Homo sapiens: one gene and its partners. The protein of the gene in region 1 purifies or fractionates together with the protein of each later gene. This does not show direct contact. Each region holds a gene or a part of one and is shown in the gene's direction. Other genes may lie near its edges.

Region 1 (3,835 bases):
AACATCTGTGTCCCAATAGGTATGAGGATGAAATCAATAAGCGCACAGCTGCTGAGAATGATTTTGTGACGCTTAAAAAGGTGAGCGAGAGAATGTCTTGGCTGGGGGTGGGGATAGGAGTGCTTCACAGCCCCATTGTGTCTAAGCAGCCAGTTTGGAAATCAACTGTGAGTGCAAAAGCAGCAGCCAGAGAAAGGAGTGAGACCCATGGCACATTCTCTTGCAAACAAAATTGTCTCTGTAGGTCAAGCTTCTGGATACAGTTTTCAAAGCTGTTCTGCATTTTTGGTAGAGTGCTTCCCAGTAGTAACCCACTTAAAGCCTCTACTGAATCATGATAAATGCAAACACAAAAATCTCTTTGTATTCTCCTTCTAAAGAGCTGAGGAAGGAATGGGACTTCCCTTAGAATGCCTGCTTAAAGTTGCTGTTGGTTGTGCTGACAAAGGTTTGAGGTTGTAGGCCAAAAGCAAGGGTTCTCCTGCTGGGTCCTGCAGGGCCTTTGGTGTATATTCTGGGGAAATTTCGGAGAGGTGAGATGGACAGACGGGATGAGAGAGCTGAGGACTGTGGAAACCCACAAAGAACATCGTATCCTGTTGTAGAAACACACAGTGTCTCAAGCAGGAGAGAGGGGCTGGTTGGCAAAGCTTGGTCATCTCGAGGCTCTGATGGTCCTGAGGGCTGTGAGCCATGGACGTAGGCATGAAGTCCCTGGCAGAGGTGTATGGTAAACTGCACGACAAAAGAAGTCCCATGGGGACAGGGATCAGGTTGGGGAGCCTGGGATTTTAGAGAGGAGCCAGCAGGGACTGAGTAGAGGGGAGTGGCAGAGAGAGGAAGAGGCCTGTACAGGGAACCATACACCAGAGGCCTCAACCTTTCTTGCAGGACGTGGACAATGCCTACATGATAAAGGTGGAGTTGCAGTCCAAGGTGGACCTGCTGAACCAGGAAATTGAGTTTCTGAAAGTTCTCTATGATGCGGTAAGGAGGCTGCTCCGGGACAGTCCCTTACTTCCCACCCTTCTCACCAAATGAAAGTCCTTTCTGCTTGGTGAAAAAGTGGCAGAAGTGGGGTTTATGGACCAGCTGACTTCAATCTGCCATCATTCCAGGCCACTGGGGGGGCTTTCATAGCATAGGTCTTGTGGGTGAGGAATTTTCTCCTCCGATGTTATGGGAATAAGGTTCAGGAAACACCAGGACAGCTTCCCCTCCCTCCATTCCCCAGATGTCCATTTCCCCTGGGGAAGAGACAAGCCCTGTGCCCATTCCTGTGCCTACTGTACTTCAGAGGTCAAAATGCATTTGTCTCCTATCCCCCTCCCCAACCCAAGGGTGCACAGATGATTTCTGAAACAGGAAGTCCATTTAAGGTATTTGCCATGGACAAGCTTCTGTCTGGGGGCACTTACCATAACTGGCTTAAGTGCTGAATGTTAACTAGGAGGCTCAGAAATACAGGTGCCTCTCACTACAATTCTCAGGACAACCTTGGGAGAGGCCCAGGAGTAGACGGTTACATGATTTTCATCCCACCTAGTGTATGCTTAGTCTGAGGGTCTGCGTTTCCCTTATGCTGGGAGACAGAGGCCTCCTGTCTGCCTGTAGCTATGGCAGGATGTCATGACCAGACCTTCCTGTGTGTTGTAGGAGATATCCCAGATACATCAGAGTGTCACTGACACCAACGTCATCCTCTCCATGGACAACAGCCGCAACCTGGACTTGGATAGCATCATCGCCGAGGTCAAGGCCCAGTATGAGGAGATCGCCCAGAGGAGCAAGGAAGAAGCGGAGGCCCTGTACCACAGCAAGGCAAGTAGAGGGAATGTAGGAAGAGCCACAGCTCCCTGCCATGAGCTGGGTTGCACCCCCAGCTGGAAAGTGTACAGTAAGGTTATTGGTTTTTTGTTTAATGGTAGTTGGGCACCATTCCCAAGAAAGGATGTTGAGAATGGCACCAAGTCCTTTTGGGCATGTGAGACAGTCCCTACCTCTCATGAATGCAGCCATGACATTTAGCTGGGTTGACCCTCCCTGGACCAGTAACCAGCTCTCCTTCACTCCAGTCAGTCTGGAATGTGAGCCAGGCTGGAACTTCCTTGCAAACTGTCCTCTTCTCCCCATATCAGTATGAGGAGCTCCAGGTGACTGTCGGGAGACATGGAGACAGCCTGAAAGAGATCAAGATAGAGATCAGCGAGCTGAACCGCGTGATCCAGAGGCTGCAGGGGGAGATCGCACATGTGAAGAAGCAGGTGAGGCCCAGCCCTGTCCAGCGAGGGGCGGGAGGTTGTCTCTGGGTGTGCGTGAGAGTGTGGTTGTGTGTGAGTGTGCATGTGAGAGATGAGAGACACTGAGATATTGCACTCTAGCATGTATCGATCCCAAATTCCCCAGCTTAACATAATTTATGGCTTATTATAACAATTCTTAGAGTGCTCTAATAGACATTCCAAAGTAAGGATTATCGAAGGGAAAGAATTGTGCTCACTTGTTTATATGAGGAAAAGGGAGTCATAACAAATAGAGCAAACGTTAGTTTGATTGATTTGCTGCAGATTGCCGATGGAGCTTCCCGTTTGTGCTCAGCACAGGCCCTGAGCACCAGCCGACTGGTTTCATAGAGGGGCAGTGAGTATTGAGGGCAGCTGGCCTGGGGCTGGACGTTAGCTTTGGAATAGAAAAGGTAGAGGCAGAGAGTGGATTCCATCAGCAGCAGAAGCTTTGCCAAGCAGACCATTTCAAATGTTTTCATTTCCATCTGTAAAATGGGATCATGATTCAGGCCCTGTGATGTGAGGATCAAAGGGCACTATGGGGAAAGCCAAAGGGTGTCATCAACGGTGACATGGGAAGAAGATGTGCCAGAGACAGCGGCAAGTCTTAGCACAGTTGTTTGCGACTAAACTCCAGAGGGGACCTAACACTCCCAGGGCCAGTGGTTCTGGCTTCCTGCACTTCGAACACCTCTGCTCTCTGTCCGCCTCCGTCAGGCAGAATCCATTCTCTGTCCTTCTGTCATAGTGTAAGAATGTGCAAGATGCCATCGCAGATGCCGAGCAGCGTGGGGAGCATGCCCTCAAGGATGCCAGGAACAAGTTGAATGACCTGGAGGAGGCCCTGCAGCAGGCCAAGGAGGACTTGGCGCGGCTGCTGCGTGACTACCAGGAGCTGATGAACGTGAAGCTGGCCCTAGATGTGGAGATCGCCACCTACCGCAAACTGCTGGAGGGCGAGGAGTGCAGGTGAGGGCACTGGGAAGGGAGAAGGGGACCCTGGCCCTTCCTCTCATCTCTCCCAGAGCCAGGGCTGGAGGCAAAGACAGGGAAAGCAGAGAATGGGGCAGGCCCTCCTGACAACTGAGAACTGACATTCTCTGTGTTCCCCAAGCAGAAACTCAGGACATAAAGCATGATTGGAGAGTTACACATTTATCAACATGAAATGATGCATAAGGCACATTAAATTAAACTAAGCAGTAAGTTAAACATCCTGGTCTTTTCTGAAAGAGAAAACAAAATCATGGGAAAACAGGTTAGTCCTAGACAGTCTGAAACTTTGGTCTCTAGGTCCATAGGGTGAGTGGCTTCTGTGCCCTCCACCGGGTGACCCAGAATGGGGGAGATGATGTCTCGGAATGTGCTGACTGGTGGGGACGTGCTGACCGGAGCAGGTGCCAGCCCCAGTTCTTTGCAGGTTTCTGGAGTGACAAATGGAACCATTTGCTAACTTTCAAAGAGGCACCCTTTGCTTCCTCTGTAGTCTGAGACCTTTGTCCGTATTATCAGCATCTTGGGTGACTTAATCTGGCTGAAGCAATTGGAAG
Region 2 (4,758 bases), on another chromosome or scaffold:
GCATTATTTGAGAAATTTTAATGGAAACAGCAATATTGGATAGCTGTGGGATATTTGACATCTATAGGACACTACTCAAACTACCAGTTTGAGATACCACACAAGAGATTGTGTTCCATTTTTTTTGATGACACTGTGTCTTCCAAACGCTAGGTTTTGGGAGTTTGCTGTGATAAAAAGCAAGTACTATGCAAAAATCAATTTGGAACAGTAAATGAAGGTGGTGGTGTCCAAAATGATTTCAAGATTTGAGAACTTGTGTAATATCTAGTAGGTACACACATCCTATTAAGTAGTTGTGGTAATTTAGTAATAAAAATATTTATTTCAATTTATACATATTTATTTTTCGATCTGCTACTAAGTTGGTAGGCTATAAATACTTTTTAGGTTGTGGACTGAACTACTTAGTAAATGGAACTGTTAGGTATTTTTTTGGCCTAGGGGTTCCATGAAAAAAATAACTGGCATACTGAGGGGTCTGTGAACTGAGAAAGTTTAGGAACCTCTTGAACTTTTGACCAGGACACCTATATATATTTTCCATGTTCTGTGCTCCCAAAGGTTGATTTTTTACATTTATCTTTATTTTTTATTTTTTTAAATAAAAAGAATAGATGTGTGTTATACGTGTATGTGTATACATATAATGAATCAAAAGTTTCACTTTTCAAAGTTTTACTTTAAACAGCCTCATGGCCAGGCGCGGTGGCTCATGCCTATAATGCCAGCACTTTGGAAGGCCGAGGTAGGCAGATCATTTGAGGTCAGGAGTTCAAGACCAACCTGGCCAACGTGGTGAAACACCATCTCTACTAAAAATACAAAAAAATTAGCTCGGCGTGGTGGCGCGCACCTGTAATCCCAGTTACTCAGTAGGCTAAGGCAGGAGAATCACTTGAACCTGGGAGGTGTAGGTTGCAGTGAGCCGAGATCGCGTCACTGCACTCCAGCCAGGGCGACAGAGAGACTGTGTCTCAAAAATAAAATAAAATAAAATAAAGCGCTCACTACCTTCAATACACTTGATATTTGCAAATCAATCCTATTTAGTTCCATTAAAAAAATGCTAGCTCCAATCCACGATATTGTTTTGTTTTGTTTTAATCTACTAACGGGTCATGACTACACACTTGATAATATGATGCTGGTTGACTCCTAACGTCCAGCTTTAATACGGTTTGTTTCTCTGGTTAGTTATAAATGAAGTTAGACTACGCTTTAGCTTTTATTTTAGATTTGGGTTGTGGGGGATACACGTGCAGGTTCGTTACATGGGTATATTGCATCATGCTGAGGTTTGGGCTTCTGTTGAACCTATCACTGAAATAGCGAACATAGTACCCAGTAGGTTGTTTTTCAACCTTTACCCCTTACCTGTCACTTCCCACCTTTTTTTTTGAGATGGAGTCTCTGTCACCCAGGCTGGAGTGCAGTGGCTTGATCTAGGCTCATTGCAACTTCTGCCTCCCAGGTTTAAGCGATTCTCCTGCCTCAGCCTCCCGAGTAGCTTGGACTACAGGTACGAGCCACCATGCCCGGCTAATTTTTTGTATTTTTAGGAGAGATGGGGTTTCACCATGTTGGCCAGGCTGGTCTCAAACTTGTGAGCTCAAGTGGTCTGCCCACCTTGGCCTCCCAAGGTACTGGTATTACAGGCGTGAGCCACCACGCCCGGCCCTTTCCCACTTTTGGAATCCACAGTATCTTATTTTCATCTTTATGTCTATATTTACCTATTGTTTAGACCCCACTTACAAGTGAGAGAAGGTGTGATATTTGATTTTCTGTTTCTGCATTAATTTGCTTAGGATAATGACCTCCAGCTGCATCCATGTTGCTCCAAAGGACATGATTTCATTCATTTTTATGGCTACGTAGTATTCCACGGTGTATATGTACCACATTTTCTTTATCTAATCTACTGTTTTTTGTTTGTTTGTTTGTTTTGTTTTGTTTTTGAGGCAGAGTCTCGCTCTGTTGCTCACGCTGGAGCGCAGTGACGTGATCTTGGCTCACTGCAACTTCCGCCTCCCGGGTCCAAGCAATTCTCCTGCCTCAGCCTCCTGAGTAGCTGGGATTACAGGCACATGCCACCATGCCTGGCTGATTTTTGTATTTTTAGTAGAGATGGAGTTTCACTATGTTGGTCAGGCTGGTCTCAAACTCCTGACCTCATGATCTGCCCACCTCGGCCTCCCAAAGTGCTGGGATTACAGGCATGAGCCACTGCTCCCGGCCTATCTGATCTACTGTTGATAGGTACTTAGTTTGATTCAATGACTTTGCTGTTGTGAATAGTGCTGTGATAAACATACTAGTGCAGTGTCTTTTTGATAGAATGATTTCTTTTCCTTTGGATAGATACCCAGTAGTGGGAATGCTGGGTCTAATGATAGTTCTAAGTTCTTTGAGAAATCCCTCTACTCTTTTCCACAGGGGTTGAACTAATTTACATTCCCACCAGCAGTGTATGATACTCCCTTTTCTCTGCATCCTTGTCATCTGTTATTTTTTAACTCTTTAATAATAGCAATTCTGACTGGTGTGAGATGGTATCAGTGTGGTTTTAATTTGTATTTTATTGATGATTAGTGATTCTGAGCATTTTTTTCATATGTTTGTTGGCCACTTGTATGTCTTCTTTTGAGAAGTATCCGTTTATGTCCATTGCTCACTTTTTAATGGAGTTATTTTTTTTTTCTTGTTCATTTGTTTGAGATTCCTTGTAGATTCTGGATCCTAGTCCTTTGTCAGATGTACAGTTTGCAAATATTTTTTTCCCATTCTTTAGGTTACCTCTTTACTTTGTTGATTCTTTTGCTATGTAGAAGCTTTTTAGTTTAATTAAATCTTGTTTATGAATTTTTGTTTTGTTGCATTTGCCTTTGAGGTTTTAGTCATAAATTCTTTGCCTAGGCCCATGTGCAGAAGAGTTTTTCCTAGGTTTTTTAAAATAGGATCTTTATAGTTTGAGGTTTTATGTTTAAGTCTTTAATACGTCTTGAGTTAATTTTTGTATGTGGTGAAAGGTAGGGGGTCCAGTTTCATTCTTCTGCACATGCTAGCCAGTTTTTTTGTGTGTTTTTTGGGTTTTTTTTTCTTTTTAGCACTGTTTATTGAATAGGTGTCCTTTCCCCATTTTTGCTTTTGTCAGCTTTGTTCAAGATCAACTGGTTATAGGTGTATGGCTTTATTTCTGGGTTCTCTATTCTGTTACATTGATACAGATGTCTGTTTTTGTATTGGTAACATGCTGTTTTGGTTAGGATATCCTTGTAGTATAGTTTGAAGTTGGGTAATGTGATGCCTCCTGCTGTGTTCTTTTTGCTTGGCTATTCAGGCTCTTTTTTGGTTCCATATGAATTTTAGAATTGTTTTTTCTAATTTGTGAAAAATGATGTTGCTAATTTGATGGGAATAGAATTTTTGGATTGTTTTGGGCAGTATGGTCATTTAAATTTTGATTCTTCCAATCCATGAGCATGGAATGTTTTTCCATTTGTTTGTGTCATCTGTTATTTCCTTCATCAGTGTTTTGTAGTTCTCCTTGTAGAAATCTTTCACCTCCCTGGTTAAATTTATTCCTGGGTATTTTATTTTTCATGTGGCTATTATAGATGGGATTGCATTTTTGATTTGGTTCTCAGCTTGAACATTATTGGCATATAGAAATGCCACTGACTGTTGTAAGTTGATTTTGCATCCTGAAACTTTACTGAAGTCTTTTTCTTAGGTCTAGGAGTTTTTTGAAGGACTCCTTAGGGTTGAACAGAGATAATTTGAGTTTCTCTTTTCCTATATGGATGCCTTTTTTTAAATTTTAATTTTCTGCCTGATTCCTATGGGTAGGATGGAAAGTATTATGTTGAATAGGAGTCGTAAGAGTGCACATCCTTGTCTTTTTTCAGTTCATAGAGGGGATGCTTCTAACTTTTGTCCATTCAGTGTGATCTTGATTTTTTGGAGTAGTTTCAGTAAGATTGATACCAGCTCTTCTTTGTTTGTCTGGTATAATTTGGCTGTGAATGCATCTGATCCTGGTCTTTTTTTGGTTTGTAGATTTGTTTTTATAACTGATTCAATTTTGTAAATTGTTATGATCTGTTCAGGATTTCAGTTTCTTCCTTGTTCAATCTTGGGAGGTTGTGTGTTTCCAAGAATTTATCCATTTCCTCTGGTTTTTCTAGTTTGTGCACATAAAGATGTTCATAGTAGTCTCTGAGGCTCTTTTGTATTTTTGTAGTATGAGTTCTGTCACCTTTGTCATTTCTGATTATGCTTCTTAGGATCTTCTCACTTTTTTTTTTTTTAATTTACTTAGAGGTTTATCTATCTTGCTTATCCCTTCAAAGAACTAACTTTGTTCTGTTGATCCTTTGTATGTTTTTTTTGTTGTTGTTTGTTTGTTTGTTTGTTTTGGTCTCAATTAATTTAGTTCTGCTCTGATCTTAGTTACTTCTTTTTTTTCTGCTAGCTTTGGGTTTAGTTTGTTCTTTTTCTGGTTCCTTTAAGTTCAACTTTAAGTTGTCAATTTGATATCTTACTGTCTTTTTGATGTAGGCATTTAGTGCTGTAAACTTTCTCCTTAACATTGCTTTTGCTGTATCCCAGAGGTTTTGGTATGTTTGTTTCTCTATTTTCATTTGTTTCAAAGAATTTTTTTATTTCTGCCTTAATTTGTTGTTTAACCAAGTTAGTTAGGAGCAAGTTGTTTAGTTTCCATGTATTTGTGGTTTTGAGAGTTCCTTTTGGTAT
Region 3 (4,136 bases), on another chromosome or scaffold:
GGCAGCACAGGAGGGTCCTGCTGAGCCCCCAGGTAGCCTGGGGAGCAGGAGTGAGTCCCAACATTTCCCCAGGCCAGTACAGATACAGATCCTGCACCTGCACTGAGTGTCAACGCTGTCCCTGAATTGGGCTGAGGCTGACCAGGGCCCTGGGTTGGGGGTGTTTCCTGGGGTAGCCTGGGGATGACTCCTCTGCTCAACCTGTCTTGGCCCGAGGTGGATGAGGGTGCTGTCCTGGGCATCAGCCCCCTCAGCAGGCCTCTGCCTCTTGCCTGCAGCAATGGGGAGAACTGGTGGTGGGTGCCAGTGGTGGCACCACTTCTGGGTGCCTATCTAGGTGGCATCATCTACCTGGTCTTCATTGGCTCCACCATCCCACGGGAGCCCCTGAAATTGGAGGATTCTGTGGCGTATGAAGACCACGGGATAACCGTATTGCCCAAGATGGGATCTCATGAACCCACGATCTCTCCCCTCACCCCCGTCTCTGTGAGCCCTGCCAACAGATCTTCAGTCCACCCTGCCCCACCCTTACATGAATCCATGGCCCTAGAGCACTTCTAAGCAGAGATTATTTGTGATCCCATCCATTCCCCAATAAAGCAAGGCTTGTCCGACAGCAGTACCCCCACTTCCTGGGGGCCTCCTGTGGTTGGGCTTCCCTCCTGGGTTCTTACAGGAGCTCCAGGGCTATGTCTTAGCCCAAGGTGTAGAGGTGAGGCACCTCAAGTCTTTCATGCCCTGGGAACTGGGGTGCCCCAGGGGGAGAATGGGGAAGAGATGACCTGCGCCCTCAGTAGGAACAGGGTGAGATGAAAGAACGACAGAATGAGGGATTTTCAGGCACGGGGGAAGGAAGGGTGGTTTTGGGGAACAGACCGTAGCTGACTGGTTGGGGGCCGGCTTTGGAAATACTTTGAGGGGATCCTGAGATTGGACTCTAGACTCTCCCCTGGTTCTTCCCTTCCCTGAGTTCTGGCCGGTTCTTGGACCAGACAAGGCAAGGCCCAAGAATGTAGATCAGAATTTTTTAGCCTTTTTTTCATTAGTTCCTTCCCTAGTATTCTTCTAGATTTTTTTTTTCTTAATCACATGAAATTTTAATACCACAGATGTACTATATATCTGTTTATGTTCTGTATATGTTCTGTGCTTTATACATAAAAAAGAGTAAGATTTTTTTTTCACCTCCCCTTTTAAGAATCAGTTTTAATTCCCTTGAGAATGCTTGTTATAGATTGAAGGCTGTTAAGGGGTTGGGCTCCTCTTTCTTCTTCCTGGTGCCAGAGTGCTCCCACATGAAGGAATAGGAAAGGAAGATGCAAAGAGGGAAATCCTTCGACCACATGAAGACACAGGAAGAGGCCTCATAGGGCTCCAAGGGCTCCAGGGAAGCAGGTGCAGAGGTTGGGTGGGGTGAGGGGCCAGGATCCACTGACCCTGGGGCCAGGCAGGAATCACTCTGTTGCCTGGGGCTCAGAAGGCAGCATCACCCATGGTTCCTGTCCTTGCTCATGCATTTTGCCTTTCAATAATTATTGTGCATCTACTGTGTGCAGGCCCTGCCTGGACACTGGGGATGCGCAGTGGATGCGCTGGGCTCTGCCTTTGAGGGTTGCAGTTTAATGGGGGACAGGTAATTATATGGAAGAAGGTGAGTGCAGAGTGGGAGGCTTGGAGGCTGTGGGGCTCGGGGTAGGGGAGCTCACATCCAGCCTCTGGGCCAAGGCCAGGAGGCTTCCCAGAGGAGGAGACAGAGCAGGGTATGGTGGTGGGGGGTGTCCTTTTTGGGGGTGGGAGCTGCACTTTACAGTTTGAGGGGATGGGCAGAGGAGGCTGGGCTTCGTTCTGGAGGTGGGGACACGGTGAGGTGAGGTTTAGAAAGCACACCTGAGCCGCAGTGTGTAGGATGCTGGAAATGGTGGAGATGGGCCTGCGAAAGTGATGACCCAGGAGCAGCAGCCGGGCACCTAACAATGGGTCAGCACCGTGGGCGTGGAGACGAGAGCGGGGATTGATCAATACCGGAGAAGTACAATGTACAGGACTTGGGTTCCATTTGGATGGAGTGGGTGAGGGAGAGGGAGGAGTCAGAAATGGCTTCCGGTTTCCAGCTTGGGCCTGGGGATTGGAGATGTCCCCACTGAGAGTAGGGCACAAGTGAGGAAATGGTTTGGAGAGGAAGATAAGTTACATCATGGACATGCTGAGTCTGAGTTGCCTATGGGACTTGGAATGGGGGGTGGCAAAATGTGTGTGATCTTGAGCAAGATATTCAACCCTTCTGGGCCTTGGTCTTCTTATTTGTAAAATGGCGATAAGAATATTACTTCCCATTTGTGTTGCTGTGAATATTAAATGCGCTACCACATGTAAAATGTTGAGAATCATTTCTGGCTCAGAGTAAGTGCTCAATAAACACAGTTATGCCTTTTATATGGTCTGGAGCTCAGAAGCGGAAGACAGGGTTTCGTGAAGTCATGGCTTTGTGGATGTAGCTAGATTGTGGAGTAATGACAGGAGGGTTGGGGGCATGGCACAAGGTAGGTGGTCAAGAGACACTGGACACAACCCAAATGTCCATCCACAGGGGAACAGATACATACACTGCTGCGCAATTGCACATAATAGAACCCTCTACAATAGCAAAAATTAAGGCACAACAGACACCTGCAACAACACAGAAAAATTCTGGAGGCATAAAAGGTAATACAGTAGCCGGGCGTGGTGGTTCACGCCTGTAATCCCAGCACTTTGGGAGGCCAAGGCGGGTGGATCACGAGGTCAAGAGATCGAGACCATCCTGGCCAACATGGTGAAACCCTGTCTCTACTAAAAATACAAAAATTATCTGGGTGTTGTGGCACACACCTGTAGTCCCAGCTACTCGGGAGGTTGAGGCGGGAGAACTGCTTGAACCTGGGAGGCGGAGGTTGCAGTGAGCCAAGATTGCATCACTGCATTCCAGCCTGGCGACAGAGCTAGACTCGGTCTCAAAAAAAAAAAAAAAAAAAGAGCCTGGTGTAGTTGGGCACCTGTAATCCCAGCTACTCAAAAGGCTGAGGCAGGAGAGAATCCCTTGAACACGGGAGGCGGAGGTTGCAGTGAATGGAGATTGTGCCACCGCACTCCAGCTTGGGTGACAGAGTGAGACTGTGCCTCAAAAAAAACAACAACAAAGTAATACAGTAGACTATATACAGTGTGACACCAGTCTTGTAGCTGAAAAATAAGCAAAAATACATTCTTTGCTATATATATGTATGTAAGAAAACTATTTTAGAAAAAGAAATAATTCCTACAGGCAGATGGAGAGGAACACAGGAGTAGTACAAACTATTAATAATTTTCTAGTTTTGGGTTTGGACATTTGCGGGTTTATTACATGATCGTGCTTGATAACATATAAATGTGATACATATTGTTTGTATGAGATATATATATTATATATATATATATATATATATATATTTTTTTTTTTTATGGAGTCTCTCTCCCGTCATGCAGGCTGGAGTGCCAGTGGTGTGATCTCGGCTCACTGAAACCTCTGCCTCCTGGGTTCAAGCAATTCTCCTTCCTCAGCCTTTCAAGTAGCTGGGATTACAGGCATGCGCCACCACGCCTGGCTAATTTTTGTATTTTTAGTAGAGACCAGGTTTCGCCATGTTGGCCAGGCTGGTCTCAAACTCTTGACCTCAGGTGATCCACCCGCTTCCGCCTCCTAAATTGTTAGGATTACAGGCGTGAGCTCCACCGCCTGGCCAGTATGTAGGTATATCTAAAAACACAAAGAAGGAATAGCTGTAGTGTGAGGACGGCGGAGTTGGGGGGCGGAGTGGGGGGCGCCAGGGGGAGGGGAGGGGTAACAGGTGGGAGCCTGGTGAGATCACAGGGAATCCAGGGAGGATGACTGTATCTGACGTCCCACGGTGGGAGGAGCCGAGCCAGGGGAACCAGGGCTGGGAGTGACCAGGGAAGGGCCCACAGCTGGAAGTCCCCAGCTGTACAGTAGCCTTCCTCGGTAACCTTCTACAAGCCCCTTCCCCCCTCTCACGCTCAGTGGCCCTGTGAGCCTTTCTCATTGTTGGCATTCCAGAGCAGCATGGTCCCAAGGCCTCAGTTACAGCTTAGAGAGG
Region 4 (4,758 bases), on another chromosome or scaffold:
GGAGGAAGGGCTTGGGAGGACGGGCATGGATGCTGGGGACTTTAGCTTGACCCTCTGGGGAGGGGAGGGGAGGGGAGAAGGGCAAGGGAGAATCTAGGTTAGGACCTTTTTTTTTGTTTTTTGGCAGGGGAAAGGGTTGGTGTCTTAGTCCTTTTTGGCTGCTATAACAGTAATACCACAAGTTTGGTAGCTTATAAACAACAAGCGTTTATCTCTCACAGTTCTGGAGGCTTGAAAGTCGAAGATCAAAAAGAGCTGATAGATTCAGTGTCAGTGAGGGCCCATTCCTCATAGATGGTGCCTTTTTGCTGTGTCCTAATATGGTGGAAGGAGTCAGTGAGCTCCCTTGGACCACTTTTAAAAGGGCACTAATCCTATTCATGAAGGCTCCACCGTCATGATCTAGTGACCTCCCAGAGGCCCACCTCTTAACATCATTACCTTAGGGGTATTTCAGCATGAATTTTGGGGAGATGCAAACATTTAGACCATAGCAGTAGGGGAAAGCAGAGAGCTTAGATCCTTGAAAGAAGAGGGAGTTGGGGATGCTGAATGTGAGGCTAGGTGCTGTTTGGATTTTGGATTTTTAAACCTCTACAACCTGCAGCAAGGGAAGGATTTAGCTTTACCTCTGTGTTTCATCCATAACTAGGAAATGTCTGTCTTTCTCTTTGCAGCAATATCCCAGCCCCGAATTCTGCTATATAGTAGTACCCTGCGCTGGATGCAAAACTTCTGGGCAACTTGGACAAGTGTCACAAGGCCTATCTGCAGGGGAAAGCTCTTCAATAACCTGAAACCCAGCAAGAAGAAACTTGGTCAGCACTACAAGCAACTTTCCTATACAGCCCTCTTTCCCCAGCTGCAGGTAAGGCACTGATGTCCCTGCTGACATCTTCACTTTATTCTGCTTCTAGTTTTCTTGTTTCTCATATTGAGTCCCTTAATCATCCCTCTCATGCCATCCTTTGTTAATGTTATGCTCTCTTGTTGCCAGGTACATTATTGGGCCTCATTTGCCCAGCAACGGGGCATCCAGATTGAGTGCAGTCAGGGCCATGTCTTCACTCGGGGGACTCAGCGGCTTATACCTCAAGGTAAAATGAAAGACTCCTTTCATTTCTCCTATCCTGTTCCTTGTTTTTCCCTTCTCAGTTCCATTCCCCTCCTCCATCTCTGTCTTACACTATCCTCTGAACTGGTCAGCATGGTCTCTGTGTGCCTCTTTTTCTCAGCAGGCACAGTGATGCGGCGCCTTATCTCTGATTGGAGTGTTACCCAGATGGTGAGTGACCTAAGTCAGGTGACCGTTCACCTGATGGCCTCACCCACTGAAGAGAATGCTGATCACTGTCTTGATCCCTTGGTAACAAAGACCCACCTGCTGAGCTTGTCCTCCCTCACCTACCAACGGCATAGCAATCGCACAGCTGAGGAGGTACTCCCTGACACACTTTCTTTATTACCTTATTTATATTAGTAGGTATCTCAGCCTACTTGGGCTGCCATAACAAAATACCAGAGACTGGGAGGTTTATACAACAAAAATTTATTTATGAGTTTTGGCTACTGGGAAGTCCAAGATCACGGTGCCCGCATGGTTGGGTTCTGGTGAGGGCTGTCTTCCTGGCTTGCAGATGGCTGCCTTGTGTCTGTCCTCACATGGCAGAGAGGGAGAGAGAGCACAAGTGTGCACGAGTGCTCTGGTTTCTCTTATTGTAAAAGCACTAATTCTGTCATGAGTGCCCCACCCTCGTGACCTTATGTCATTACCTCCCAAAGGCCCATCTCCACATACTGTTACATTGGGGGTTAGGACTTCAACATATGAATTTGGGGGGAACACAGTAAAGTCCATAGGAGTAGGTTGCAGATTAAGTCCCTGGTAAGGTTTCTCATATATTCCAAGCATGTATGTCATTACTTTATGACAAACTCATTTGGTTTAGCTGTATCAGCATCCTTCTTTTTGAAAATACTTTTTCTTTCTCTCCTAAAAATAGTATGTTACTCTTTAGGAAATAGAGTAAAATTTTTTCCTAACACTGAAAAAAAAATTGGTACTGCCTTTCCCCCAATTAGGGAAGGATTTTAAGTTGAAATTCTCAAGTCATTTAAAATACAGTGGGGGAGGGCTGGGTGCGGTGGCTCATGCCTGTAATCCCAGCACTTTGGGAGGCCAAGGCGGATGGATCATTTGAAGTCAGGAGTTCAAGACTAGCCTGACCAACATGGTGAAACCCCCATCTCTACTAAAAATACAAAAGAATTAGCTGGGAATGGTGGTACATGACCGTAGTTCCAGCTACTTGGGAGGTTGAGGCAGGAGAATCTCTTGAACCCGGGAGGTGGAGGTTGCAGAGAGCCGAGGTCACACCAGTGCGCTCCAAGCTGGGTGACAGAGCAAGATGCTGTCTCCAAAATACAAAAAAAAAAAAAAAAAAAAAAAAACAGTGGGGGCTGGGCTCAGGTGGCTCATGCCTGTAATCCCAACACTTTGGGAGGCTGAAGCAGGTGGATTGCTTGAGCTCAGGAGTTTGAGACCAGTCTGGGCAACATGAGGAAACCCTGTCTCTACCAAAAATACAAAAAATTATCTGGGTGTGGTGGCATGTGCCTGTGGTCCCAGCTACTCGGGAGGCTGAGGTGGGAAGATGGCTGGAGTCTGGGAAATCGAGGCTGCAGTGAGCCATGACCGCATCACTGCTCTCCAGCCTGGGTGACAGAGTGAGACCCCATCTCAGAAATAAATAGGCAAAGTGTGATGGCTCATGCCTGTAATCCCAGCACTCTGGGAGGCCAGGGTGGGTGGATCCCTTGAGCTCAAGAGTTCCAGACCAGCCTGGGCAACATGGTGAAACCGTGTTTCTACAAAAAATACAAAAAAATTAGCCAGGCATGGTGGCATGCACCTGTAGTCCTAGCTATTTAGGAGGCTGAGGTAGGAGGATGGCTTGAGCCCAAGAGGCAGAGGTTGTAGTGAGCCAGGATTGCACCATTAAGGCTGGGTGCAGTGGCTCACACCTGTAATCCCTACACTTTGGGAGGCTGAGGCAGATGGATCAGTCGAGGTCAGGAGTTTGAGACCAGACTGGCCAACATGGTGAAACCCTGTCTCTACTAAAAATACAAAAATTAGGCCAGGTATAGTGGCTCACGACTGTAATCCCAGCACTTTGGGATGCCAAGGTGGGCGGATCATTTGAGGTCAGGAGTTTGAGACCAGCCTGGCCAATATGGTGAAACCCCATCTTTACTAAAAAATACAAAAATTTGCTGGGCGTGGTGGCAGGTGCCTGTAATCCGAGCTACTCGGGAGGCTGAGGCAGGAGAATCGCTTGAACCCGGGAAGTGGAGGTTGCAGCCAGCTGAGATCGCACCATTGCCTTCAGCCTGGACGACAAGAGTGAGACTCTGTTTCCAAAAAATAAATAAATAAATAAATAAAAAATAAATAAATTAGCCAGGTGTGGTAGCACATACCTGTAATCCCCAGGTACTTGGAGACTGAAGCATGAGAATCGCTTGAACCTGGGAGGCAGAGGTTGCAGTTAGCCAAGATCATGCCACTGCACTCCAGCGTGGGTGATGGAGTGAGACTCTGTCTCAAAAAAAAATCACACCACTGCACTTCAGCCTGGGAGACAGAACCAGATTCTGTCTCAAATAAATAAATAAAAATAAATAAATATATTTAAAAAATAAAATGGGCCAGCACAGTGGCTTGTGCCCGTAGTCCCAGCTACTTGGGAGACTAAGGCAGGAAGATTGCTTGAAGCCAGGAGTTCAAGACCAGTCTGGACAAAATAGACTCCATTTCTTAAAAAAAAAATTTTAGAGGAACTCTGAAAACGTTTTTTGATAAAGAATAAAATACAGTAGGTATAGTTTGAATGTAATATAATATAAAAGCCAAGACCACTTAGTTTTTCTTCTCCAGGGTCTGTCTCCCCACCACGCCCAGTGAATTTTTTTTTTTTTTTGAGACTGCGTCTCTCTCTGTCGCCTGGGCTAGAGTGCAGTGGTGTGATCTCGGCTCACTGCAACCTCCACCTGCCAGGTTCAAGCGATTCTCCTGCCTCAGCTTCCTGAGTAGCTGGGATTACCAGTGCCAGCCACCATGCCCAGCTAATTTTTTGTATTTTTAGTAGAGATGGGGTTTCACCAGGTTGGCCAGGCTGGTCCCAAACTCCTGATCTCGTGATTTGCCCACTTCGGCCTCCCAAAGTGCTGGGATTACGGGCATGAGCCATGGCATCTGGCCAACAGGTTTCTTATTCAACAAACTTTTATCACTGCCTCTGTGGCACTGGGGGCAATTTCCATGCTACCCTGAAGTCCTTTTCCTGTTTCTTAGGAGCTCTCTGCTCGTGATGGGGATCCTACCTTTCATACACATCAGCTGCACTTAGTAGATTTACGGATTTCCTGGACAACTACCAATCGAGACATTGCCTTTGGGTTATATGATGGGTACAAAAAGGCAGCTGTACTCAAACGTAATCTTTCTACTGAGGCCCTGAAGGGGTTAAAGATTGATCCACAGATGCCAGCCAAAAAGCCAAAGCGGGGTGTCCCAACTAGTGCCTCAGCCCCACCTCGTGTTAACACTCCCAGCTTCAGTGGACAACCTGATAAGGGGTCATCAGGAGGTAAGCTCGGGGAGATGAGACTTTTTGGGTTTGGGTTTAGAACATGGATATGGGCTTGGACAGGAGTTTTAAAAGGACTGAGTCATGGTGCTTCTATCTAGGTAAA
Region 5 (4,472 bases), about 71 Mb from region 1:
GCCAGGAGTTCGAGACCAGCCTGGGTGACATAGTGAGATCTTGTCTCTGCAAAAAAAAAAATGTTTAAAATCAGCCAGGTGTGGTGGTGCCTGCCTGTAGTTTCAGATACTCGAGAGGCTAAGGTGGAAGGATTGCTTGAGTCCAGGAGTTTGAGGCTGCAGTAAGCTATGATCATGCCATTGCAGTTCAGCTTTGGGTGACAGAGCAAGACCCTGTCTCAACAAAAACACAGAAGTATGTATAATGATATATAGTCCAGGTATTATTTAACAGTAATATTGTTTATTTTAAAATAGCAATTGTTAATTCATTGTGAAATCTATTTTTTTTTTTAAGAAAAGTATCCTTCAGTGTTTTTTTTTTTTCCTTTTTAACTTAGAAATTTTGGTGAGAAGAAAGTTATTTGATCTATGTATGTGTGGGATGCAGCACTGATCAAATGTGTCCATTTCTTCTGGTGAAATGTGTGAAGCACCTCCTAGGCTCCTCTTGTACTGTTCTCACTTCAGCAGAGCCAAAGAATTATCCTCTTCCAGTTGGTTGTATTGCTATTACTAGAATTTCCATATACTCAATGTGTCAAACATATTGAGAATATTTTAAAGTACAGCAGTTATTTGGAATAGTTGAAAAGCTAATTCATATTGTCCAGTTTAAAAGAAATCATAAGATGTTTCGTGTAGAAAGCAAAATAATTGTAATTTTAGTGTTTATACTTGCTCTTTTGCTAAAAGAAAGGTCAGTTTGGTGGTGATTATAGAACTTGGTATAGAATTCTAATTAAACTTTTCCCATTGTTTTCACCTAGGAAGCCTTGGAAGATCGTTTGGAAAGGATTAATCGAGAACTGGGTTCAGTTCGCATGACGCTAAAGAAATTCCATGTTTTGCGCACCTCTGCAAATCTTTGAGATTTGTAGCCATTAAATTTTGAGACATTTTTGTTTGCACTAATGTATAATTATGCAGTCAGAAAAGGCAAACTATTTTGTACTGTTTATAAGCCTTCAAACAGTAGTTTTACAATCATGCTATTCTTACACTTGCTATTTTATACTTCAAATGGCCACATATTTTCAAGATATTTTTGTTATGCTCAGGAATCTCTTGTATATTTTACTATTTAAAAAGCATTATTTTTAAATAGTATCTGTCTCCAATTTATATCAAGAATAAGGAAATATAAACAGAGGAAGCAGCTTGTTTCTAAACAAATAGTGTTATCCTTTTACAATTAACTGCACATCAATTTTATAGACTTGTTCTACATTGTAAATACAATTCAGTTTTTAAAAAATAAAGCTTAATAGCTTCCATAATGATAGACTAGTACATGCTGAATACATAAACAATTACAGTGTACCTTGGATTTCAGTTGTGTTGAGGTTTTTAAAAAATGATAATGCAATTCGTATTTGAAACGTGTCTTAGAGTGAATATCAGAATAGTAATAATGGACTCTTGGAAAGCTTTGAAAACTACATGAATATAACTCATTTTCTTTAAACTTTATTGTCTGTAAGAGAAAAAAGAGAGATTGTAATTCTCTAATTTTATCTTTTCTAAAAAAGTTAAACAATTGGAGAGCCCTCTCTGGAGGGCTCTCAGAGTAGCTCTCTGCCCATTGTTCTGAATTAACTTGTGTCCCACCCTGGACAATAAATGGACAGATAAACCCTTTGAAATACAAGCCACCACCCCGTGAGGGATTAAGAGGGCAGCCTGGTTTTCTTAGTGTGCATGGCTTCAGCTGTCCGTCATAGTTGTCATCTGGATATGTTCACCCCTTTCCACTCCTTCACCCTGGCCAAAAGGAAAATATTTCCACTGTAGGTGCTGTAAGAACACTAGACTTTAGATCATCACAATCTACTGTATTTGTTAATGGACAGGGAGTGTGTCCGGATGGAGCCTGGTGCCTTCCCCTCGGCCTTGCAGAGGGCTCCAGCCCACTGCCTCTGTGGTAGCCGCTGGCTCTCAGAAGTAGCACGTGGGCAGGAGTCTCTCCTCTGATCCAGGAGCATTGGCAGGTTTGTGTTGGGACTGCTGGTTAAGTTGGAGCTGTGTAACTACTTAGTTTTTGGTAGCCAATCAGAACGCAGTGCCCCACATATTCCAGCTCGGTACATGTTGATAAACAGACTCATCCAAACTTTCAAAATGGATTCGTACTAAACATGCTCAGGTTTTAAATTTTGGTTTGCTTTTGAGCTTTTCCTCTTTATGTGGCTCTTAATAATAAGTAGTTAGAATGAACCAAGCCATCCCAGTTATTCCAAGCAGGCTCTCAAATGACCTTTGAGCACCCTTCACCTGGCTGGTCCCCAGGCCAGGGGTCCACAGCCCTGCTCCCTTCTCAGCAAGGAGGGTGGCCTGTCTGACAGTGCAGTTGAACCTTTGCTCCCTACTCTGCAACTTTTGAAGACTTCAGGCTAATCAAAATTACTTATAATTAGAATCAAGTGCCTTTATTCTTGTTTTTTATTTTTATTTTATTTTATTTATTTATTTTTTTAGATGGAGTTTTGCCCTTGTTGCCCAGGCTGGAGTGCAATGGCATGATCTCAGCTCACTGCAACCTCTGCCTCCCGGGTTCAAGCGATTCTCCTGCCTCAGCCTGCTGGGTAGCTGGGATTACAGGCATCTGCCACCACGCCCGGCTAATTTTGTGTGTGTGTATATGTCTATGTGTGTGTGTGTATGTATATATCTTTTTTTTTTTTTTAGTAGAGATGGTGTTTCACCATATTGGCCAGGCTGGTCTCAAACTCCTGAACTCATGTGATCCGCCTGCCTTGGCCCCTCAAAGTGCTGGGATTACAGGCATGAGCCACCACACCCGGCCTATTCTTGGTATTCTTTATTCTTGGTTTTCTAGCCTTTAGAAAAAAAAAATCTAGTCTTGGTAAAGAAAATGTTCATTTTAATCAAGCTCCAGTACAGCTTGTGTCAAGACCTAGTAAGACCACCTTTAATGTGTTCCTGGATATGACATTAAAAACTAACTTGAAAATTGTTAGGATATTTCCTTGTTCCCTACTTTTATTGTAAAATCTACTACATTCTTAAGAATTAAAAAATGCCATTTCAGAAGAGATGATAGTTTTATCTTGCCAAGGAATTATCTTCTTAGTAGCCTATATTGGCTTATTCCAAAAAAGGCGTTAACCTCCATCAAAACATCTTCTGCGCCTCTCTCTCAGCATATGCTTTGATATTTGAAGTGTGTAATAGATTGGAGCTATCAGTCACTTATTTCTAAAAAATGTATTCTTTTTTCTTCATAGCTGTGAAGAGGGATACCAAGGAAAGTTCTTTCTGCTGTCTTTCTCTTCGGTAATGCTTATCTTATGAACACTCAACTGAAAAAACACTCCACCTAAAAGCAGGAAAGATGGCAATTCTAAATAGCAGCTATTATCCCCGGGTATAAACTATTTTTGTTGTTGGCTTGGGGCTTTGCTGCAGGTATTAATAGTTTAAAAAGAAAAAAAAAAAAAAAACCCTAAGCAAATCTGCCACCTCTGGGAAGTGCCTTTTAAAATGCAAATAGAAAGTGAACTCTCCCCTGATGCCTGGATCTGCCCCCTTCCTTTCCCTTGCTAAGCCTCTGTTTGCAGGAGCTACTCCTGAGGTATGGAAATGGTCTTTGCAACTGAAGGACTTTTCCAACTGAAGCAACAGATGTAGCTAAAGTGGCCGTGCTAGGGTTGTGCAGAGCTGGGCTCAGGGGACAAGAAAGGAGAGACTTGGAGCCAGAGAGACCTGGGTCACATCCTGGCACAGGCCTGCCTTTCTCAGCTATAAGATGAAATAAGAAAACTCCTTTCATTAAGGGAGATTTTGTAAAGTGCCTGGTGCTTAGTAAGTGCTCAAGAAATATTATATTTCAGATTCATTGAGTTAAGTAGGTTTTTGAGGTAGCATCCTTTTTTTTTTTTTTTTTTTTTTTTGAGATGGAGTCTCTAGTTCTGTTGCCCAGGCTGGAGTGCAGTGGTGTGATACTGGCTCACTGCAACCTGTCTCCTGGGTTCAAGCTATTCTCCTGCCTCAGCCTCCCGTGTAGGTGGGATTACAGGTGCATACCACGCCTGGTTAATTTTTGTATTTTCGGTAGAGACGGGGTTCTCACCATGTTGGCCATCCTGGTCTTGAACTTCTGACCCCAAATGATCTGCCTGCCTTGGCCTCCCATAGTGTTGGGATTACAGGCGTGAGCCACTGCGCCCAGCCTTGAGGTAGCATACTTTCTGAAATAAAAAAGTAGATTATGTCCGAAGCAGTTGACCTAAAAACTGCCTTGGACTGACATTTGTTAGGTGGTCTAAGATGTTCTCTTCACGCTTTGCAAAAAAATGAGCTTTTTTGGAGTTTAAATTAAGCATCCCTCTGGTGTGTTTGGTTTTTTAGCCACCAAAAATTTAACAAATTTGATAACCTGTCACGTGTAAGTTCAGAAAGCACTTTGGTCT
Region 6 (4,758 bases), on another chromosome or scaffold:
TCTCAGATTCCTTGATGGGCAGGAAGAAGAGGTAGTTCTCCAGGGACTTGATCTTTATGTCCTTAACCAAGCAGCCCAGCTTGGTGACAGGCATCCACTCCTTATCCTTGGCCTTGCCTCCACGAGCTCCGTGGCCTCAGCCCTGTCCACAGCTGCAACCCCAGCCCCTCCATGGAAGCCACCACGGTTTCCCATCCCAGGGCCCCCGGGGCCTCTGCCCCCGCCCCACCCCCTCCACCGACATCATCTGCCATTTGGTGTTTTCTCAGAGAAGAAGCAAGGCAAAATAGTCTTATGTCATATAACATTGAAGCTTCTAAAGGGCTTCAAGATATGTGACTGTATCACTTAATTGAGGCAATAGCCCTTGCTCTTCTGGCTGCTTCTGTTTGGGGAAATTATTGAGTAGGTAGTCTGGGTAGGTGGTACATAGTGTGATTGTCTTCATTCTTTGCTGAGGTTTTGAGTTAGCTTCAGCAGTTCTTCTTAGGCCTAGGATGTCACTTCCCCTTTGCATAAACTTTGTTATGCACATGTGCTTCAGATAGAACTAATTATATTTTTAAATTACAAAAATTAAAATTTTTCCTCTTAAGGAGTTTGGGGCAGCAGTCTTCTTTGTAGAATCATGTGTTTCAGAGGCACAGGTCTACTTTAGAGAAAGTGAGATTAAGGTTCTAAACAAAGATACAAGGCCATTTAAAAAATACTGTTGCCCCCTACACATTTCTCTTCTTTCCCTTTTGTTCAGTATGGTTTGTGTGGATAATTACTGTCCACTAAAACCAGGCCACAGGACCATTGGCATACTCAGGTTGTCTCCTGACAGTGAGTCTAGTCTTCAACCAATGATACAGGCCATTTATATCCTTTGTATGTAGATGTTTGGGCCTGGCGCAGTGGCTCATACCTGTAATCCCAGCACTTTGGGAGGCTGAGGTGGGCCAATCACTTGAGGTCAGGAGTTCGAGACCATCCTGGCCAACATGATGAGATCCTGTCTCTACCAAAAATACAAAAATTACCCAGTGGTGGCGCATGCCTGTAGTCTTAGCTACTCCAGAGGCTGAGGCAGGAGAAGCTTGAACCTGGGAGGCAGAGTTTGCAGTGAGCCCAGATTGTGCCACTGCACAGAACAAGACTCTGTCTCAAAAAAAAAAAAAAAAAAAAAAAGACGTGTATGTAGATGTTTATTTTTTAAAAATTCATTTATTTTTTTATTTTTATTTATTTATTTTTTGAGACAGAGTCTTGCACTGTTGCCTGGCTGGAGTGCAATGCTGCAATCTCGGCTCACTGCAACCTCCGCCTCCCAGGTTCTAGCAATTCTCCTGCCTCAGCCTCCTGAGTAGCTGGGATTACAGGTGCGGACTACCATGCCAGGCTAATTTTTTGTATTTTTAGTAGAGATGCGGTTTCTTTGGCCAGGCTGGTCTCGAACTGACCTCGTGATCCGTCCACCTTGGCCTCCCAAAGTGCTGGGATTACAGGTGTGAGCCACCGCGCCTGGCCCCTTTTAAATTTATTTTTAAGAGACAGGGTCTCACTCTTGTCACCCAGGCTGGAGTGCAGTGGCACGATCATAGCTTAGTGTAGCCTCTAACTCCTGGGTTCAAGTGATTCTCCTGCCTCAGCCTCCCAAGTAGCTAGGAATACAGGCACACACCACCCGACGCCCAGCTAATTTTTCAAATTTTTGTAGAGATGGGGTTCTCACTGTGTTGCCTAGGCTGGTTTCAAACTCCTGAGCTCAAGTGACCCTCCTGCCTCAGCCTCCCAAAGTGATGGGATTGCAGGCATGAGCCACCATGCCTGGCCAGATGTTTGTTTATTTTTTTTCTGAGACTCTAGTAGTCTTTCTCTTCCTTTATTGAATCTGTTAAGTTTTATATCAGGTTTGGATGATAGCCAAGTTGGGTTTTAGTGTCTTCACCTTAGCAGCCCTGTATGTAGGACTGTAATTCTACTCAAAAGGGAACATGAAAGGTAATGTGAAAAATTCTAAAACACTTGGCTTCTAAAGACTTGTGGATGTTAGGTTGATTTCTCCTGTTCATCAAAGTAATTTGCACATTTAATGTTCCATTCATGGAGCTATTTATTTAAAAAAAATTATTAACTTTTTAAAAGACAATGTCTTGCTCTGTTGCCCAGCCTGGAGTGCAGTGGCGTGATCATAGTTCACTGTAACCTCAAACTCCTGGGCTCAAGTGGTCCTCCCAGCTCAGTCTAAAGAGTAGCTAGGACTATGGGCTGCACTGCCACACCTGGTGAATTAAAAAATAAATTTTTAGAAATTGGGTTTCTATCTATCTGTGTTGTCCAGGCTAGTCTCCTGACCCCAAGCAATCCTTCTGCCCTGGCCTCTCCAAGTGCTAAGATTACAGGTGTGAGCCATTGTGCCCAGCTTATCGCCTAATTTCTTCTCCTTATTCTGACAGATTGAAGGAGTGGGATTTTTTTCCCTCTGATTTTCTTTAGGGAATAGAAGCAAACAGCTTTCTTGGGGCATTTTTGGGACTCATCAACAGAAAAGAATGGAGAGTTTAGGCTCTGAAGGACCTTTTAAAATATGTATACATTTTTAACAGCTTTATCGAGATGTAATTTGTATACTATATAATTCACCCATTTGAAGTGTACAGTTCAGTGATTTTTCGCATATTCAGAGTTGTGCATCCCTCACTACAATCAATTTTAGAACATTTTTATTACACCAGAAAGAAGCTCTGTTCCTTTAGCCATTACTCCCTCCACCCTACCCCCAGCCATAGGCAATCACTAATCTACTTTCTGTCTCTATAGATTTGCCCGTTCTGGACATTTCATATAAATAGAATCATATAATATGTGGTCTTTTGTGACTGGCTTCTTTCACTTAGCATATTTTTTTTTAAGGTTCATCCGTGTTTGTAGCATTCCTTTTTATTGCTGATAATATTTTATTGTATGGATATACCATGTTTTGTTTATCCATTCATCAGTGGTGAATGAATGGATAACATTTTGATTCTTTTCACTTTTTGGCAATTATGATTAATGCTGCTCTGAACATTGGTATAAAAGTTTTTATATGGACATACATACATTTTTTAAAAACTTGTTTAACAGAGATTTGTAAACACAAAAATGTAGAATAGTACAGTGAAACCCCATGTCCTTATTACCTAACTCCAACAATCAGTTTTTTTAAATAGATAGACTTTATTTTAGAAAACAGTTGAACTTAACCAAGGCTTTCCGGGAGTATCCATCGCTGGACTCTTTCAGGGTATAGGAGATTGTACCCTTTTTAGGGTTCTTACTACAGCCAGTTCTCTTCTCATATCCTTTTGGAGTCCTGGGGAAGGAGGACATGAGCTTCTAATAAGCAACCTGATTTCTGCCTATATGTATGTGATAGCTTTTTTAAGAAAACTGTTTTTATGCCTTTTTTCTGTCTCTACTGGAGATTCCAAGTCTGGACTACAGCTTTTTGAGAGCCATCTCATTTGTAGCTTCTTGATAGTTAGTACTGGTTTAGACCTTGGGCTAGTATGCCGTTTCATGGTGACATGTAATAGTTCTGGTGGGGAGCTGAATGTGGGAGTGTGAATGAACTTGCCACTCCTCATGGAGCCTATGTTTTTTCTCCCTATACTAATATGGTCAGAGACTTTTTGTATGGTAGATGGTGTTTTGGCAATGGAGTGACTCAACTCATGAACATTCCTCTCTGGAAATAGGTGTGTTTATGGCTGACAGACCTATAGAGAAAAATTTTTACCTCAGTTTGATTTCAGAAATCATCCTTGGTTTATTCCCATTTATTCCTATTTCATACTGCATTGAAACCTCAAAATTTCCCAAATTCTTAGGAAGAAGGTGGGTAACAGAAACCTGGATTCCCACAGGTGGCATTCTTGTTAGAGAAGGTAAATAAAGTTTGTCCTTGATAACCTTTCATAAATTTATTCCTAGGTCTACAACTTTGATCAAAGGCAGGCTGGTGAATAAGAAAAGGCAATGTTTTGAGATTCTGCTGGCATAGTCTCAGAGATAGGAAAGCAACTACTAAAAAAACTAAGGAAAAGTCATTTCTAGAAACTCACAACAAAAGTAGCTACTAGAAACTGTAGAAGACACTAATAGTTACCATCCTCTAGATGATAATTCACTCTGGAATGTGAGTGACATGTAAGAACTTTTATTTTTTATTCAGAGTACTTAGAAGTTTTCATACATAAAGTGCTAGAGGATCTTTATTTCTATCTGTGATTTAAATCAGAAACTTTAGTTTTGTGTCATAGCCATAGCCCCTGAGAAGGTTAGCATTATTGGGTGTGGTATAGAATTCTCAGCTAAAAGAATAGCTGTCCCATCCTGGATTTTTACCTCATGCCACAAAGGTCTGAGACCTTTGTATTTAATGAAATAAAAATATATGGTGAACCAAACCATCACTTTCTCTTTTCTAAGCCCAAGATTAGCAGAGTGCTTGTAGATATCCAGAGAAGGCAAAGAGGGTGACAAAACAGGCTGTGAGAGAGCTTTATGGGTTTTAATATGTGAACCATCAAGGCAAAGCATTGGAGAACCTTCTAAATCTTATGAGAAAATCATGCTAATTAGATAAATCAGTAGTTTTTTTAAAAGTTACCATATAGTGATACTTTTTTTTCCCAATTGAATTATTAGAACCTTAATATACAGACTTAAAGTTGGAATTAGTGTGATTTAACTGGGATAGAAGGTCAAGAGCCCTGCTGGTTCTGCTTT
Region 7 (3,618 bases), on another chromosome or scaffold:
GTAACCTCTTCTGCTCTCATTTCATTAACATTTGCATGAAATGTCTATTTCCATCTTGCCACTTTCAGTCTCTTTTTGTCATTAGATCTCAAGTGAATCTCTTGTAGGTCAGCTGTAGTTTGATCTTAGTTTGGTTTTAAATTATTTAGCATATGCCTTTTGATTGAGTAGTTTAGTTCCTAAATAAGCAATTTACTGAAATGAAAAGATGTACTTTAGCCATTGTATTTTTTTTACTTGATTCTTGTAGCTTTTTCTTTCTCTCTTTCCTTTTTGTGTCTTGTACTTTGTATAATAAGCTTTGACTCTTTTTAAATTTTCTTTTGTGTGTCTTATAGGTATTTTCTTTGTGGTTACCATGGAAATTATATAAAACATCTTAAAGTTACAACAAGGTATTTTACACTGGTAAATACTTAACTTTAGTTGTATACAAAAATTCTTTCTTATTAAATCTGCCCTCAACTTTGTTACTGATATCCCTAAATCATTTAATGTTGTATATCCATTAACAGTTATTTATGATTATTTTTCTACTTTCATCTTTCAAATTTTAGATAATAATTAAAAGTGATTTCTGCACCATCATTATAGTACCACAGAATTTTATTTTTCTGTATATGCGTATCTTTTCCATATATTTATTTTGATATGATTATATATTATTTTATAGCATCGCATTATTTTCAGTGGAAAGGACTCCTTTTACCATTTCTTGTTTGACATGTGTAGTGGTAATGTAGCCCTTGGTTATGTTAGAAAGCCTTTATTTTTTATGATTTTGTAGGACACTGGTTATATTATTCTTGCTTGGAAGTTTTGTGTTCAGCAATTAGACTATCTCATCCAATTCCCTTCTTGCTTCAGGTTGTACTTTTTTTGAGACAGGGATTTATTCTGTCACTCAGGCTGGAAGTGCAGTGGTGTGATCGTGGCTCACTGCGGCCTCCACTTCCCAGGTTCAGGTGATTCTCCCACTCCAGCCTTCTGAGTAGTTGGGACTACAAGTGTGCAACAGCATACACAGCTAATTTTTTTGTATTTTCTGTAGAGATGGGATTTCACCATGCTACTCAGGCTTGTCTTGAACTCCTGGGCTCAAGCGATCTGCCTGCCTCAGCCTCCCAAAGTGCTGGGATTACAGGTGTGAACCACCGTGCCCAGCCAGGCCTCAATGTTTCTGTGGACAAATTCACTGGTAATCTCCTAAGAGCATGTACCTTGCTTTTCACTTGCTGCTTTCAGGATTCTTTTCTCCTTTGACTTTGGAAACTGTGGTTATAATGTGTCTTATGTCCCTTTTTGTTTATACTAGTTGATGTGTTGAGCTTCTTGATTTTTTTGTATTTTTTTCTTACTTTTGAGAATTTCTCAGTAATTATTTCCTTTCATACCTCAGTTTCTCAGTCTGTTTTTCATACTTCATGTCTTTTTATTGGTATCCTTATTTTCCTAATTTTACTTAGTTTGCTGTTTTGCCATTTTTACTCATTGAGCATTATTCAAATGGTAATTTTATTTTCTTCAGTTAATTTATGCATCTCCATCATTTTAGGGTTGATTTCTGAACTTTTTTTATTTCTTTGATTATGCCATGTGACCCTAATACTTTGTACATGTCATCTTTGACTGAGATTCAGGCATTAACAACAAGCCTCCTGCCACAACCTTTATAATGTGCCTTTCTCCTGGGGTCATCTAAAACAAATAGGCCCAGATTCTAGAGGCCTCTTAAGCCTGTTCTGGGATGTGTCTTGTGTGGAATTGTGTGTGTATTTTTCATTTAAAGAGGGTTTCTCAGCTTTCTTTGTAGTGCCCTGGAATCACACAATACACTTGTCGCCTGGTGCTGCTGCTGCAGCCTTCCTACCGCTGTCATGGGTATTTCCTTTCGGTCTCAGCAGACCCAGCCTGTCACTCAGAGTACCACCATTTCTCTCAGCACTCCGTGTCACAGGGGGCAGAAACCAATCTTTGCCAAAGCTTCAAAAGGCCAAAAGTAAAAACACTTGTGCCAGTATTTGCTTTCTCTTTTGAAGGAGAAGCCAAGAGCTGAGGGTGTACTCTTAAAGGCATGATGCTATACTGCGGAGGAGCGGGGGCTGCAGTGGGTAAACGTAACAGACTGTTTTTCTTCTTATCTGGCTCCTAGCACTGTGCTCACCTGGGGTGCTGCAAACTGTGAAATGGTTTTTAGAGTTCAGATGCATCTTCTCACTAGGTATTGTTACATTTATATGTTTATACAGAAATTAGGGCCTGTGGTATTTTTTATGCCATTTTGCTAATGTACCCAGTATTATTTTATAGATTAGATTCATAAAGTGTATTCATCTGTGTCTAGTAAGTCGGATAACTTTTTTTTTTTTTTTCAGCTATGTCTTCTCATTTTACCCAAGACCTTCTGCCAGAGCAGGGCATACAAGATGCATTCCCAAAAAGAATACTGAGAGGATATGGAAATTGTGGCCTTGATAATTTATATTTAAGGAAAGACTGGGAAAGTTTAGATGAGTGTAAGTTGCAAAAAGATTATAATGGACTTAACCAATGTTCATCAACTACCCATAGCAAAATCTTTCAATATAATAAATATGTTAAAATCTTTGATAACTTTTCAAATTTACATAGACGTAATATAAGTAATACTGGAGAGAAACCTTTCAAATGTCAAGAATGTGGCAAATCCTTTCAAATGCTCTCATTCCTAACTGAACATCAGAAAATTCACACTGGAAAAAAATTCCAAAAATGTGGAGAATGTGGCAAAACCTTTATCCAGTGCTCACACTTTACTGAACCTGAGAACATTGACACTGGAGAGAAACCTTACAAGTGTCAAGAATGTAACAACGTCATTAAAACTTGCTCAGTCCTTACTAAAAATAGAATTTATGCCGGAGGGGAACATTACAGATGTGAAGAATTTGGCAAAGTATTTAACCAGTGCTCCCACCTTACTGAACATGAGCATGGTACTGAGGAAAAACCCTGCAAATATGAAGAGTGCAGCAGTGTCTTTATCTCTTGCTCAAGCCTTTCTAATCAACAGATGATTCTTGCTGGAGAGAAGCTCTCCAAATGTGAAACATGGTACAAAGGTTTTAACCACAGCCCAAATCCTTCCAAACACCAGAGAAATGAGATTGGAGGGAAACCTTTCAAATGTGAGGAATGTGACAGCATCTTCAAGTGGTTCTCAGACCTTACTAAACATAAGAGAATTCACACTGGTGAGAAACCATACAAATGTGACGAATGTGGGAAAGCCTATACACAGTCCTCACACCTCAGTGAACACAGGAGGATTCACACCGGAGAGAAACCCTACCAATGTGAAGAATGTGGGAAGGTCTTCAGAACTTGCTCAAGCCTTTCTAACCATAAGAGAACTCATTCTGAAGAAAAACCCTACACGTGTGAAGAATGTGGCAACATCTTTAAGCAGTTATCAGACCTCACTAAGCATAAGAAAACCCATACTGGAGAGAAGCCCTACAAATGTGACGAATGTGGAAAAAACTTTACCCAGTCCTCCAACCTTATTGTACATAAGAGAATTCATACTGGAGAGAAACCCTACAAGTGTGAAGAATGTGGCAGAGTCTTCATGTGGTT

Evidence for each region.
Region 2: the proteins of KRT2 (region 1) and CEP350 purify together in Homo sapiens (affinity purification with mass spectrometry; one large-scale study listed by BioGRID and IntAct). This does not show direct contact.
Region 3: the proteins of KRT2 (region 1) and AQP7 purify together in Homo sapiens (pull-down; one study listed by IntAct). This does not show direct contact.
Region 4: the proteins of KRT2 (region 1) and BLTP2 purify together in Homo sapiens (affinity purification with mass spectrometry; one large-scale study listed by BioGRID and IntAct). This does not show direct contact.
Region 5: the proteins of KRT2 (region 1) and MPHOSPH9 purify together in Homo sapiens (affinity purification with mass spectrometry; one large-scale study listed by BioGRID and IntAct). This does not show direct contact.
Region 6: the proteins of KRT2 (region 1) and ZNF318 purify together in Homo sapiens (affinity purification with mass spectrometry; one large-scale study listed by BioGRID and IntAct). This does not show direct contact.
Region 7: the proteins of KRT2 (region 1) and ZNF195 purify together in Homo sapiens (affinity purification with mass spectrometry; one large-scale study listed by BioGRID and IntAct). This does not show direct contact.

The regions. Positions count from the first base shown.
Region 1 is NC_000012.12:52,646,159-52,649,993, reverse strand, and holds part of KRT2 (keratin, type II cytoskeletal 2 epidermal), read left to right. Parts: intron 1-19; coding exon 20-80; intron 81-891; coding exon 892-987; intron 988-1,656; coding exon 1,657-1,821; intron 1,822-2,138; coding exon 2,139-2,264; intron 2,265-3,033; coding exon 3,034-3,254; intron 3,255-3,835.
Region 2 is NC_000001.11:179,960,467-179,965,224, forward strand, and holds part of CEP350 (centrosome-associated protein 350), read left to right. Parts: intron 1-4,758. UniProt on the Homo sapiens protein: Plays an essential role in centriole growth by stabilizing a procentriolar seed composed of at least, SASS6 and CPAP. Required for anchoring microtubules to the centrosomes and for the integrity of the microtubule network.
Region 3 is NC_000009.12:33,381,433-33,385,568, reverse strand, and holds the end of AQP7 (aquaporin-7), read left to right. Parts: exon of another isoform or gene 1-278; coding exon 279-564; 3' UTR 565-2,378; downstream 2,379-4,136. UniProt on the Homo sapiens protein: Aquaglyceroporins form homotetrameric transmembrane channels, with each monomer independently mediating glycerol and water transport across the plasma membrane along their osmotic gradient. Could also be permeable to urea.
Region 4 is NC_000017.11:28,628,159-28,632,916, reverse strand, and holds part of BLTP2 (bridge-like lipid transfer protein family member 2 isoform 1 precursor), read left to right. Parts: intron 1-677; coding exon 678-868; intron 869-997; coding exon 998-1,097; intron 1,098-1,235; coding exon 1,236-1,438; intron 1,439-4,357; coding exon 4,358-4,652; intron 4,653-4,758. UniProt on the Homo sapiens protein: Tube-forming lipid transport protein which binds to phosphatidylinositols and affects phosphatidylinositol-4,5-bisphosphate (PtdIns-4,5-P2) distribution.
Region 5 is NC_000012.12:123,153,246-123,157,717, reverse strand, and holds the end of MPHOSPH9 (M-phase phosphoprotein 9), read left to right. Parts: intron 1-100; coding exon of another isoform or gene 101-154; exon of another isoform or gene 155-803; intron 804-809; coding exon 810-911; 3' UTR 912-3,287; coding exon of another isoform or gene 3,288-3,293; 3' UTR 3,294-3,503; downstream 3,504-4,472. UniProt on the Homo sapiens protein: Negatively regulates cilia formation by recruiting the CP110-CEP97 complex (a negative regulator of ciliogenesis) at the distal end of the mother centriole in ciliary cells.
Region 6 is NC_000006.12:43,358,934-43,363,691, reverse strand, and holds part of ZNF318 (zinc finger protein 318), read left to right. Parts: exon of another isoform or gene 1-277; intron 278-4,758.
Region 7 is NC_000011.10:3,359,323-3,362,940, reverse strand, and holds part of ZNF195 (zinc finger protein 195), read left to right. Parts: intron 1-338; coding exon of another isoform or gene 339-373; exon of another isoform or gene 374-395; intron 396-1,051; coding exon 1,052-1,198; intron 1,199-2,152; coding exon 2,153-2,221; intron 2,222-2,375; coding exon 2,376-3,618. UniProt on the Homo sapiens protein: May be involved in transcriptional regulation.